Regions from separate parts of the Homo sapiens genome. Here region 1 is reported to be linked to region 2. Evidence: microRNA targets listed by miRTarBase, many of them from high-throughput screens and not tested one by one. Region 2 holds a microRNA gene; the other region holds the end of a gene's coding sequence.
What was found. The annotated mature microRNA hsa-miR-1248 reads ACCUUCUUGUAUAAGCACUGUGCUAAA and lies in region 2 at 1,602-1,628, opposite strand. An mRNA with a match to its seed (bases 2 to 7 or 8) in the 3' UTR can be bound and repressed. Matches are read on the target gene's strand: a 7mer-m8 pairs with bases 2 to 8, a 7mer-A1 pairs with bases 2 to 7 and ends in A, and an 8mer does both.

Region 1: the mRNA of MOSMO is a reported target of hsa-miR-1248. Seed matches in the 3' UTR shown: 7mer-A1 at 535-541 and 7mer-A1 at 695-701.

Annotation. Positions count from the first base shown.
Region 1 is chr16:22,080,481-22,085,717 of GRCh38, forward strand. It overlaps MOSMO (modulator of smoothened), which reads left to right. Exons shown (of 3, transcript NM_001164579.2): 3 at 216-4,174. The coding sequence ends at 400. Among named protein-coding and RNA genes, the nearest start is that of VWA3A, 9.4 kb to the right of the region's middle.
Region 2 is chr3:186,783,066-186,788,302 of GRCh38, reverse strand. MIR1248 (microRNA 1248) reads right to left here and starts at 1,631; the gene lies at 1,526-1,631. EIF4A2 (eukaryotic translation initiation factor 4A2) reads right to left here and starts at 4,726. Exons shown (of 11, transcript NM_001967.4): 1 at 4,664-4,726; 2 at 3,826-3,871; 3 at 3,607-3,739; 4 at 3,202-3,341; 5 at 2,252-2,420; 6 at 2,030-2,139; 7 at 1,658-1,801; 8 at 1,039-1,176; 9 at 719-808; 10 at 421-500. The coding sequence starts at 4,692. It overlaps SNORD2 (small nucleolar RNA, C/D box 2), which reads right to left and starts at 3,507; the gene lies at 3,438-3,507. SNORA63B (small nucleolar RNA, H/ACA box 63B) reads right to left here and starts at 1,980; the gene lies at 1,856-1,980. It also overlaps SNORA81, SNORA63 and SNORA4. RefSeq lists an enhancer at 3,821-4,050.

The sequences.
Region 1 (5,237 bases), not on the chromosome of region 2:
CTAAAACTTACATAAAAGCCTAACCTAGCTTTTACTGTATTGTTAGGCTTCAGGGATACTATGTGACCTGAAATATATACACATTTTTAACAAGTGGTCCATGTTTTAACAGGTTTGGCCAGCCCTTCTTACAAGCTTCCTTTGTGCCAAATTTTCATTGTTTTTTGAAATCACCAAACCATGTTACTAATGTTGTGTTTTGGTTTGTTTTACAGTGATCCTTTTCTGTATGGCTGCCCTAATATTTCCAATAGGATTTTACATCAATGAAGTCGGAGGTCAACCTTATAAATTACCCAACAACACAGTAGTTGGGTCATCATATGTACTTTTTGTCTTATCAATTTTCTTTACAATAGTAGGACTTCTATTTGCTGGCAAAGTTTGTTTACCAGGCTGATGAATGTCTAAATTGCTTGACTCTTATTATTTTTTATTTTATTTTATTTTTTTATTTTTGGAGGGTGGAGAGGACAAAGGCGAGGCATCTGAGCAGGCCTCTCATGGGAAGATGCTCAGATGAAACTGATGCTGAGAAGGAAAAAAAAATGCTTTGGTTTGTTCTCACTATGCACTTTGGATTTAAAAAAAAAAAAAAAAAGGAGAGCCTTTTCCATAACCAAATACAGACAATATTGACTAAATCTCCTGAGCATATTCAGGCAGTCAGGTCTGCACTGTGATAGCAACCTAGAGAAGGAGAATGCTTTATACCGAAAAGCATGTGGCCCTTTGTGACTCTGTTATTCCGTTTTTAATGTCTAATGATTCATTAGAGGAAAAAAAAAAGTCTAAGTATTTATGTGTCATGGTGGACCAGAGGGATGCAAGAGAAGTTCATGTGGGGCTGGCCTCACCTCCTAAGAAATTAGTGTTCACAACTTCCTTGTAATAGTATGAGCCTTTGGCACCAGAATGGATTGCCGTTGCATTACTGCACCAAGAAGCCAATAGATCAAAACTTGTTTGCTAAAATGTATGTAAAAATTCTGAAATTCCCTCTCTCTGTGTACAAAAAAAAAAAAAAATCAAACACTAAGACACATGTTTTGGGTGGGTGGGTGGGGGAAATCTTCCTTATATTTATATAAATATATATAATATATATATTTTGCTGATGCAGTATACAGTGTGTATATATGTGTGTGTGTGTGTGTGTGTATGTGTGTGTAAATTTATATACACACACATGCAAACAGTTCCTGGAAGAGAATTCTGAATGCTTTGCTAGCAAAACACTGTGGTGTGCAAACCTAGAACCCAATAGAAAAAAAAGCCATTTATCTGAAGGCTGCATAGTGGAGAGAGTCTTCAGTTTACCTCATTCTTTGTAGCAGCCCTTGATTTTAACAGGTTTTTGTAATAGGTACAGATAATCCCATACCTTTCTAGGTGCGATTTTAAGTTAAGCTAAAAATTATTTGTAGGGTTAATTTATTTGTATATGATAGTAGAAGGTAAGATCATGTCAAACCTTATAATTTGGGGAATCTGACACTATTTAAATTATTGGCAACTGTTGTCTGTTGTACAGAGATTCTTTTTCTACTGGCTCAGTCTGTTACATTAATAATGCATTTTATATGTTCAGGCACACTTTACATAAATACAAAGTTCGCTAGTAAATATCTGGCTATTTTGGCTATTTACAACACTAATTTCATTATTTTTATCTGTAAGCATTATTAATACATCTTTACCAAAACCTGAGCAATACAATATTTTCTTTATATGTTATATGCCTTTGTTTGCTAAAAGCTAATATTTTTGCATTTACTTTAAAGGGCTGTACTAAACCCACAGCTTTAAGTTCTTCCCTAAAAGAAGCATTGCAGCTAACCCTTGAACTCACAGTTTTAAAATACAGTATTTCTCTTCTCCACATCTCCATGCCTTCGCATCAATGCTTGTTTTTCCTGGTGAACACTATAGATAATCTCCTGTTTGAAATGTGGGACAGGGTGTTTCATGGCAGTGGAGCTAAGTTTCTCCTCTTTATAGTGAACTGGTGACCCAAATGTCCCTGTCATTTATAGTGAACTGATGACCCAAATGACTCCCTGTCAGTAGAGTCCCATGTGGCCCATGCTTCACACAAGCAGAAATGAACGCACTGTTTTTAAGGCTAGATTATCAGTTCTAGAATGATTACTTCAAAGATGGGAGCTACCTCCTCAGATATTCACACTATGAAATGGAGGTGCTTGATGTGTTTCACACTGGCTTGTTTGACAGTCTTCTATCTTACTGTTAATTCAGCAGTATTTTATTGTGAAAGAAAACCCCAGTGTTTGAGCTCACTCAGGAATTGGGGAGAGAGATGGACCACCACTGTGGTGCATTTCTTAAGTGTTCTGGGAGAATGTCATACTTTTCCTTCCCAGAGTAAAAGAAACCTTTGGGAGATCCTGAGGGAGACTGTTTCTCCCCAAGTATGATGATGTCTAGTCAAGTCTAAGAATACCACTGGACATGTTCTATGGACATTTGGGATTGCAGTTGCTATTCTGATTTGATTGGTCCTCAGTCAAATGGATCACTTTGAAGGAAAGCTTTGGTTGTCACCGTTATATACCACTGAGATAAAGTGTTAGCAAAGTATGGTTCAAATTAACTTATGACATGACCAAGAGCTTTTCTCTTCCAAAAGATGAATTGTATTGTAAATAGTTTCTCAAAATATTTTTAACTGGATCATGAGCATGGGGAGAGAAAGTTTCTCAGCTGCTAAGAATTTCCCCACTGTTTACTTCTTTCACTTATGGTGGTATTGCATTTAAGATTACAAAATTTAAGGTTTTATTTGTATCTATTACCCAAACCATTAAATTGTCTTTAATTTCATTGTTGTCTTGGAGGTCCAGTGCATACAGGGCTGATGGGGGAAAACTCCCTCTAGCCAGTCAGCACTCTAACCCAGGATTAAACCATCCCATCAAGTAGTATGTGAAGTCAAGTCTTCGTACTCTTGCAGACCAGACATTGAAATGGATTCATTCATATAGATTTCTATAAATCCTATAAGTGAAAAGATAGACAACTGTCCGCAGTTGCTTTTAAAAAAGGTCACTATAATAAGTACTATATAGTACAGTATTAATTTATAGCAGGAAATCGTATCTTGTAAACTGTATATAAAACACTGTTTTATGGTGCAATCATTTGTCAAACTTTTGTCTGTTTCATTGTTTTTAGAGTGTGTGCATTCTTCTCATACCTAAGAATATCACTGTAAAATCTGCTGAAAACTATTTTTAGGTTTTATTTGCACAAGACTGAATTAGTTTGACATTTTTGGAAGCTCCTATTGAACATACCCAAACATCTGTAAACATGAAAAATCTTCAATTTATTAAAAGCAAACATTTCAGTATGATTCTTTCCAAAGGTAATCCATGTTCTATGTTGTTAATGTGTGTATGTAATTTTTCTGACTCTTCCACCTCTTATAAACCTATTTTCTGTTTCATTTGTTTTGTTTTTGAAGGATGGCTCTTTTTTCTTTTTAATGTTCTAGATGACCAAAACACTATTGGTTTTTACCCTTTTGCCTAAAGCTTTGATATCCCCACTTGATGTTCTGTGAATTCACTGTTTAATCTATTAAGTGAAATAATAAATAGTCCTGGTGACAAACAATCTGTTGATTTAGAGGAAAGGCCCTGAAAAATACAGTATTGGAAACTAACTTTGCATATGCTGTTAGCTATTATTTTGCATCATGGGCTTCATGGGAAGAACATGTTGCATTTATTTTGTCTTTATTAAAAGACTACTAGCCACAAGTTACTCTGATTATAGTAACTGTTTTATCAACCCACTTCATCTTTAAAAAATTAAATTTACATTCACAATTCAAAACAGTAAGCTGTCTTTCAGAAAATTTTTGAAGGATAAAAACATGAAGGAAAAAAGTGGCCCGTGTAGGTAGGATTCCCTACACAGGACTTTTAGTTGTATCACCTCAAGAGATTTTGAAGTTTGTGATCAAGGTCTGTATATTATCCCAAACTTTATTAAGAATTGTTTTCTAATTGGTTATAACATTTTTCAATTAATAGTTTCAAAACAAATTGTTAATACAACTGTATAAAATGAACATAATTTTCCTCACTTGTATTTTTGTTATTGAGCAAGTTTATCAAAATAAATTGTCTACTAAAGAAACTAAAAAGGCTTCTATTACTTTGAAATAAGCTTCATTTAAAAAATTGATTTCTTATGGAGGTTTCACATATTCACAAGTGCCACTTCCATGCCTCTTGGGTTGGTTTTTTGTTGTTGGCATTGGGGGGTGAGGGCGGTCTTTCCCTATCTTCTTCCACTCCCACTCTTTGCTCACCGCTAGAGAAGAGATGCCATTAATATTCCAGGACGTGGATTAGGCCATGATTACCCAAGAGTCACTCAGCAATAAAAGACCACATACATGTGGCTTTCCCTTCTGCGTCATGCTTCCATGAGCTAGGAGAGAGAAACCAAGCCAAAGCCCTCAAGCCAACTATCTTTCTATTCTTTCTTCCTTGCACATAGACCCAAGTCCATCTTTGCTTCAGTCTTCTGTTTCTACTTTACTCCAGGCCAAAAGATCTTAGCTTTTAAAATCTTAAAGTATGGGCTGGAGGAGCAAATACAGAGGCCTTTAGGCCCTGTCACAGCTTAACTATAGCTCTCTCTGGGGGTGTCAAGATTAGCCCAACCGAATAATAATAATAAAATATTTACAGTTTGCTGCTGATTCTTCCTTGTGTGGCCTTTTGAGGAGCCTCCTGGGGAATTGGAGGATTAAGACATGGTAAGATTTAGATGTTCTTGGGTTCTAAGATTAAGGGGTTTCCTTGGAGGTGAGACTTGAAGTACTATGTCTGGGAAAGTTCCAGGCAAACTAGGATAAGTTGGTCACCCTACCCTATCTTCACATCATCTAAATCTTCTCCTGATTTGTAACACAGATTAGAGGTTTTTGGGGGGTTATTTTCTATAAACATTAATGAATAGGTCAATTGGAAATTGTAATGGTAGATTTATGCTGAGCTGCTATGGTGGAGGGGACACTTTTTCTATTTGGTAATACCTTAGGAAAAGGTAACACAGTGGCTTTGAAAACAACATGGGTTCAAAAATACTTTATTTTGACTTATTCTTCTATCATCTCTATTCTAGCCACTATGAGAAGATTATAGGAAAAACACCAAGACTAGAGGACTCTGGGTTCCTTTTATGCAAAGTCAACTCTT
Region 2 (5,237 bases):
TTTTAAAAAGTCTTTTTTTACATCATATAACAAAGTACAATTCAATTTATTTAGGGATAAAGCCACTATAACTAAACCAGGGTTCACTCAAATTGCTACCAGGCGACACCAAGAAAATCCCAACTATAGAAAAAATCACCAAGAAAAACACATGGACACAAGAACATCACTAAAAGCTCAAGCATAAGGTAAGACCAACAATTGTGGAAAAAAACCCTATGTCCACAATCTGGGCAATGTTTACAAGTTTTCCCACTTTGTTCTCATCAACCTTCCCTAGTACAAATTTAATTACATCATCTTACTGAACACTACTGACTTTACTGAATCTATTCCTTGATTTGATGTTACCTTTCATACAAATCACAGTAGAAAAACGTATGAATTTTTTTCAATACAGCCAAGATGCTGGCTTCTCACCTGTGAATATAGTTTTCACGATTGGTAGGTAGATCATAATTTATAACCAAAGACACTTGTTGCACATCAATCCCGCGAGCCTGAAACACAATGGCATGTTTTAAAAATTGATTCAAAAAAACTTGACACCTGTCATGTAGGCCACAAAATAGTAGCGAACTATACTAAGTGGTATAGCCCACTGTGGAGTGTGGTCTTTTACTCTTCCAAATAGCCCAAGTTGGCAAAGGTTACTTAAAAACCTGCCCCCCAAAAAGCTAACTTTTGGTAGATTTTTAAAAAGCATTAAGAGACTTACCAACAAGTCAGTAGTGATCAGAACACGACTTGACCCTGACCGGAATTCCCTCATGATAACATCTCTCTCCTTCTGGTCCATGTCACCATGCTGCAAATTAATAAACCTTAATTCAAGAATCACCAGTCAGGTCGGTATTTAATTTTAATCAACATGTATGAGACCAAGCGTCCCTGGCTGCTACAGGAGAATAGCAGACAGGTATAGTTAAGAAACAACTTTATTTTAAGCAGGGGGAACGACAACACAGCACTTAGCAGCTATATTGTAGTCTGAATCCTGCTTTAGTGGAAATCCAGACATTTTAGAACACCTCTTACCAGAGCAGAAACTGTGAAGTCTCTGGCATGCATCTTCTCAGTCAGCCAGTCCACCTTGCGCCTCGTATTGAGAAAAATAACAGCCTGTGTAATGGTCAGTGTCTCGTACAAGTCACAAAGTGTATCCAACTTCCATTCCTGTAATGTTTAGAAGTTAAAGTTAACAGTCATTTAGTTTTTCCAACTCTTCAGTTAAAAATTCATTCTGGGCCAGCCACAGTGCTAATGCCTGTAATCCCAGCCCTTTGGGATCCTAGCACTTAGAGCCCAGAGTTCCAACCAGACCAGGGTTTCAAGAAAGTGAAACTGTCTCTACCCAAAATACCAAAATTGGCCAGTCTTAGCCAGTCTCATAACCCAGTCTCAAAACGTAGAAATTATAAAAATTAACTTCATTCTGTTAGGTCTAATGAGATATTGCACCAAATCTTAAGACAAAGGACATTGGACATTAAGAAAGAGGTCCACCCCAGTCTTTACAATCTAGTGCTGTTACTTTTCTTCTTGTGTGTACTCTGCTAGCATTATTGCAAAAACCAAGACATGGTCCTAGTGTCTGCAATTTTAGCACAGTGCTTATACAAGAAGGTAAAATAATGTCTAACAATCAGACAGTTACCTCTCTCTCAACATTAATATAAAACTGTTTGATTCCTTCAAGGGTCAATTCTTCCTTTTTCACCAGAATTCGAATTGGATCTCTCATGAATTTTTTGGTCACTTCCAACACATCAGTTGGCATTGTGGCAGAAAGCAACACAACCTTAAAAAGAGAAAATTATGTTGTAGCACAACTTACACATTAATACCCAAAGGAAAATGTCTGAAGCCAAGCGTCTCTGTCTTACTACGGAATGAAGGTAGACAGAGTTATGCATCAAGTGCTTTAAGCAGGGGGAACGACAACAAAACACATCAGTTGTATTGTAACAGTACCTGCATTAAATAAACCCCATCTCTACCTTTAAGAGGGGGGTGAAGTAATGCTTACCTGAATACTTGTGTTTAGTTTTTGGAAAATCTCATAGATTTGATCCTTAAAACCACGGCTCAACATTTCATCTGCTTCATCCAAAACAAACATTTTGATCCATTTTGGAGCTGTTAGAAACAAAGTCATACTGTCATTTCTAGATCTACTCAGTGATACAATTTGACTTTTCAACTATGTTAACAGTTTTAAAAAAAATACTCTCTTAAAGACAATACTTACAAAGGTATCTTCTGTTTAACATATCAAACACTCTCCCGGGTGTACCAACAACAATATGTGGTGCTTCAGCCTGCAGTTTTTGCATTTCATTTCGAACATTTGTTCCACCAATGCAGGCATGACAAGTGGCTCCCATATAGTCTCCAAGTGCCAGAATTACCTTTTGGATCTAAAACCCAAGCCTTAATTATTATTCCGCAGAACTCCAGGATCAATGACTAATTTTTAAAGCATAAAGGCAAATATAATCTGGTCTGCCAACAGCTTTTATGCATGCACAGCACAAAACTACTTCCAAGCTTAAAATGCAGACGACCTAACTGCTGCAAGGTAAAATTCCCTTAATGTCTTTCTTATGCCTTGTCAAACTTGGGATGCTGCTGCTCCACGCATCAGCTAGACAATCCAAGAATAACGTTTCCTACATTATTCTTCACTGTAGGTAGGGAGTACGTAGTGAAATTTATGTTCTGTAATTACAGCTAGGGCAAATGATTTTTTTCCCCCAGAGGGTATTGTGCCTTATATAATCCTGACCTCAATAAAGCCTACAGCTTTATTAGGAAGGTTTACTTCAAAGCCAATATAGCAGTGAGCTTTGAAAACATAGCATGCAACAGATGCATCACGAACTACGGAGACAGTCAAATGGTAACATGTCACTGCAGTTTTCATGTTGCACAACTGCATTCAAACTTAAAAAATGGGGACAGATCTAGTACATCCAAGAGAGCGCTTCGGATTCTCAATCTATTAGTATACAACCCTACAAACCATACCTGCATACCCAGTTCTTTTAAAACTTTCAACAAAAACTCCCTGCATGCATGGACAATTAAAAGGAGGGATCTGGTAGGACCAATTTATACTAAGTTTTAAATTCTTCACAGTTGTGAAACCTGAAACCTATGCAACACGCAAGCAGTTTTTTTGAACTACACTATCAATACCTGTTGAGCCAGTTCTCTGGTGGGGGCCAATACTAGTGCTTGGGTCTCCTTGAACTCAATCTCCAACTGTTGCAGGATGGAAATAGCAAATGTGGCTGTCTTGCCAGTACCTGACTGAGCTTGAGCAATCACATCATACCCTAAAAAAAGTAGGATACACATTTACCGATCCCACATCAAATTGTCACTTCTACTTCACACCATGTATTCCATTTGGAACATTATGCCCAAATAATCAAGTGATCAGCAATGAGTATTCTCTTCATTTCAGGTCAGTCCCGAAAGATGATTGCCATCATTTCACTTTAAGGAATACAAACAGGTGCTAGTCCCCCAGAGGTTACTTTCCCTTTTATGGTTCATGTCTATGTAGAACAATTTCCTAAAAATGCCAGTTTCTTTTACCTTTAATACAGGGAATAATAGCTCTCTGCTGAATAGCGGAAGGCTTCTCAAAACCGTAAGCATAGATGCCACGAAGGAGAGACTCCTTTAAATTCATATCATCAAAGTTATCAACAATCTCATTCCAGTTGCTCTGTAAGTTAGAAAAAATAATGCACGCATAAATGAGATGAACACACTCACCTTTCCAAAGCTTCAAGATCCACAACCGTTTCTTACCTCGATGACACCATCGGGGTCCATTCCCTCTGGGCCGCCATGTTCTCTGCTGACAAGAATACTGCAGTCAGACACCCCTTCCAGGCCACCTCAACTGCACCTTAAGCGCATAGCCCTTTGCAACCCGTCTCAGCACGTTAGCCTCCCCTGCACAAGCTAAAGCAGCAGCCTCAGGGCGAATATCCACACTGTGCGCCTTCCCTAAAGGTTGGGGCCTGCGGATGCCCGGAAAGGCAGCCCCCCAGGCCCGAGCGCATGGCGATCCCGTTTCAACTGCGGAGCGTCTCGCGAGAGCTCGGAGCGCCGAACTCCGCCCCCAACAATGCGCAAGCCGGGTGATTGACGCGGGCGGAGCGGCCTGGCGAGGGCGATGCCAACGGTTCACCGGCACCGGTCCTGTCCCGTCGCCTCCGCGCCGTGGCCGAGTGGAGACCGCTGCCTCCAACCCTTCCCCAAGTAAAGCCTAGGACCCTCCCCCAACTCGTGTGGATGACCGAAAATAAAGCTTCGGGTCCTGGTTACAGTGTACCGAACTCGGACTGCGCCACGGCTTTTTACTCCATGTTTCCCGTGCTCTACACTGGGAAGGAAAGCAGCCGAAGTTTCGTAATGTCTTAGAGAGGAAAAACGCCCTTTAGCCACTGCTTTCGCACCACCGTCCTATCTCCCCACAATCCGGGCCCTACCCATCATGGAAGCTTCTGGAAGGGCACAGGAGTGCTGTACCCTAAGAAAACGTCCATTAATTTAGAGTTTTTGCCTCCGTGCCATCCACTATCATCTCCCCTGGCGCCCTATGACCTTCACTACAGACCGCGACCGCCAACAGACTGCATACCTGTTATAATCCGCGGAGCCACCAGACATGATCCGAAAAACCACTCAGCGCCCGACTGAAAAGACAGCGGCGCCCAACCACCCGTTTTTTATAGGCTCGTGGCCGGAACCCGTTTCTTGCGGAGGAATTTTCTCGCCGTGCTTCGGTCAGCTACAAAATTGTGATCCTGGGGTCGTTACCTCGGATAAAATCCTAAGCAAGTTGGTAGAAAAACCCAAATGTGGTAATTTCTCGATATTACAGGGTCGCTGGAAATCCTAGGGCCCGGGGTTGGGTTGGGACTCTTTACCTCGCGGCGGAAGAATATAGCTGCGGAGTTAGTTAAACCTCGCTTTCCCCGCCCGCCCTGCTCCTACGGGGTTTCCGCGTCCCTGACGCAGAGGCGGGCCGGGGGAGCCGCGCCGGAGCCGGAGGCGGAAACCGGAGATGCTGTTCGTCGGGCGGCCGGGGCTTCCCGCGGGTGACAGGTCCCGGCTCGCGGCTCGCTGCCGGCACTCAGGTGCGGGAGGGGAACTCGGTTATTCCGCTTGCTCCCACCGCTGTTTAATTCCACAATGAAGACCTGCCTGGCATT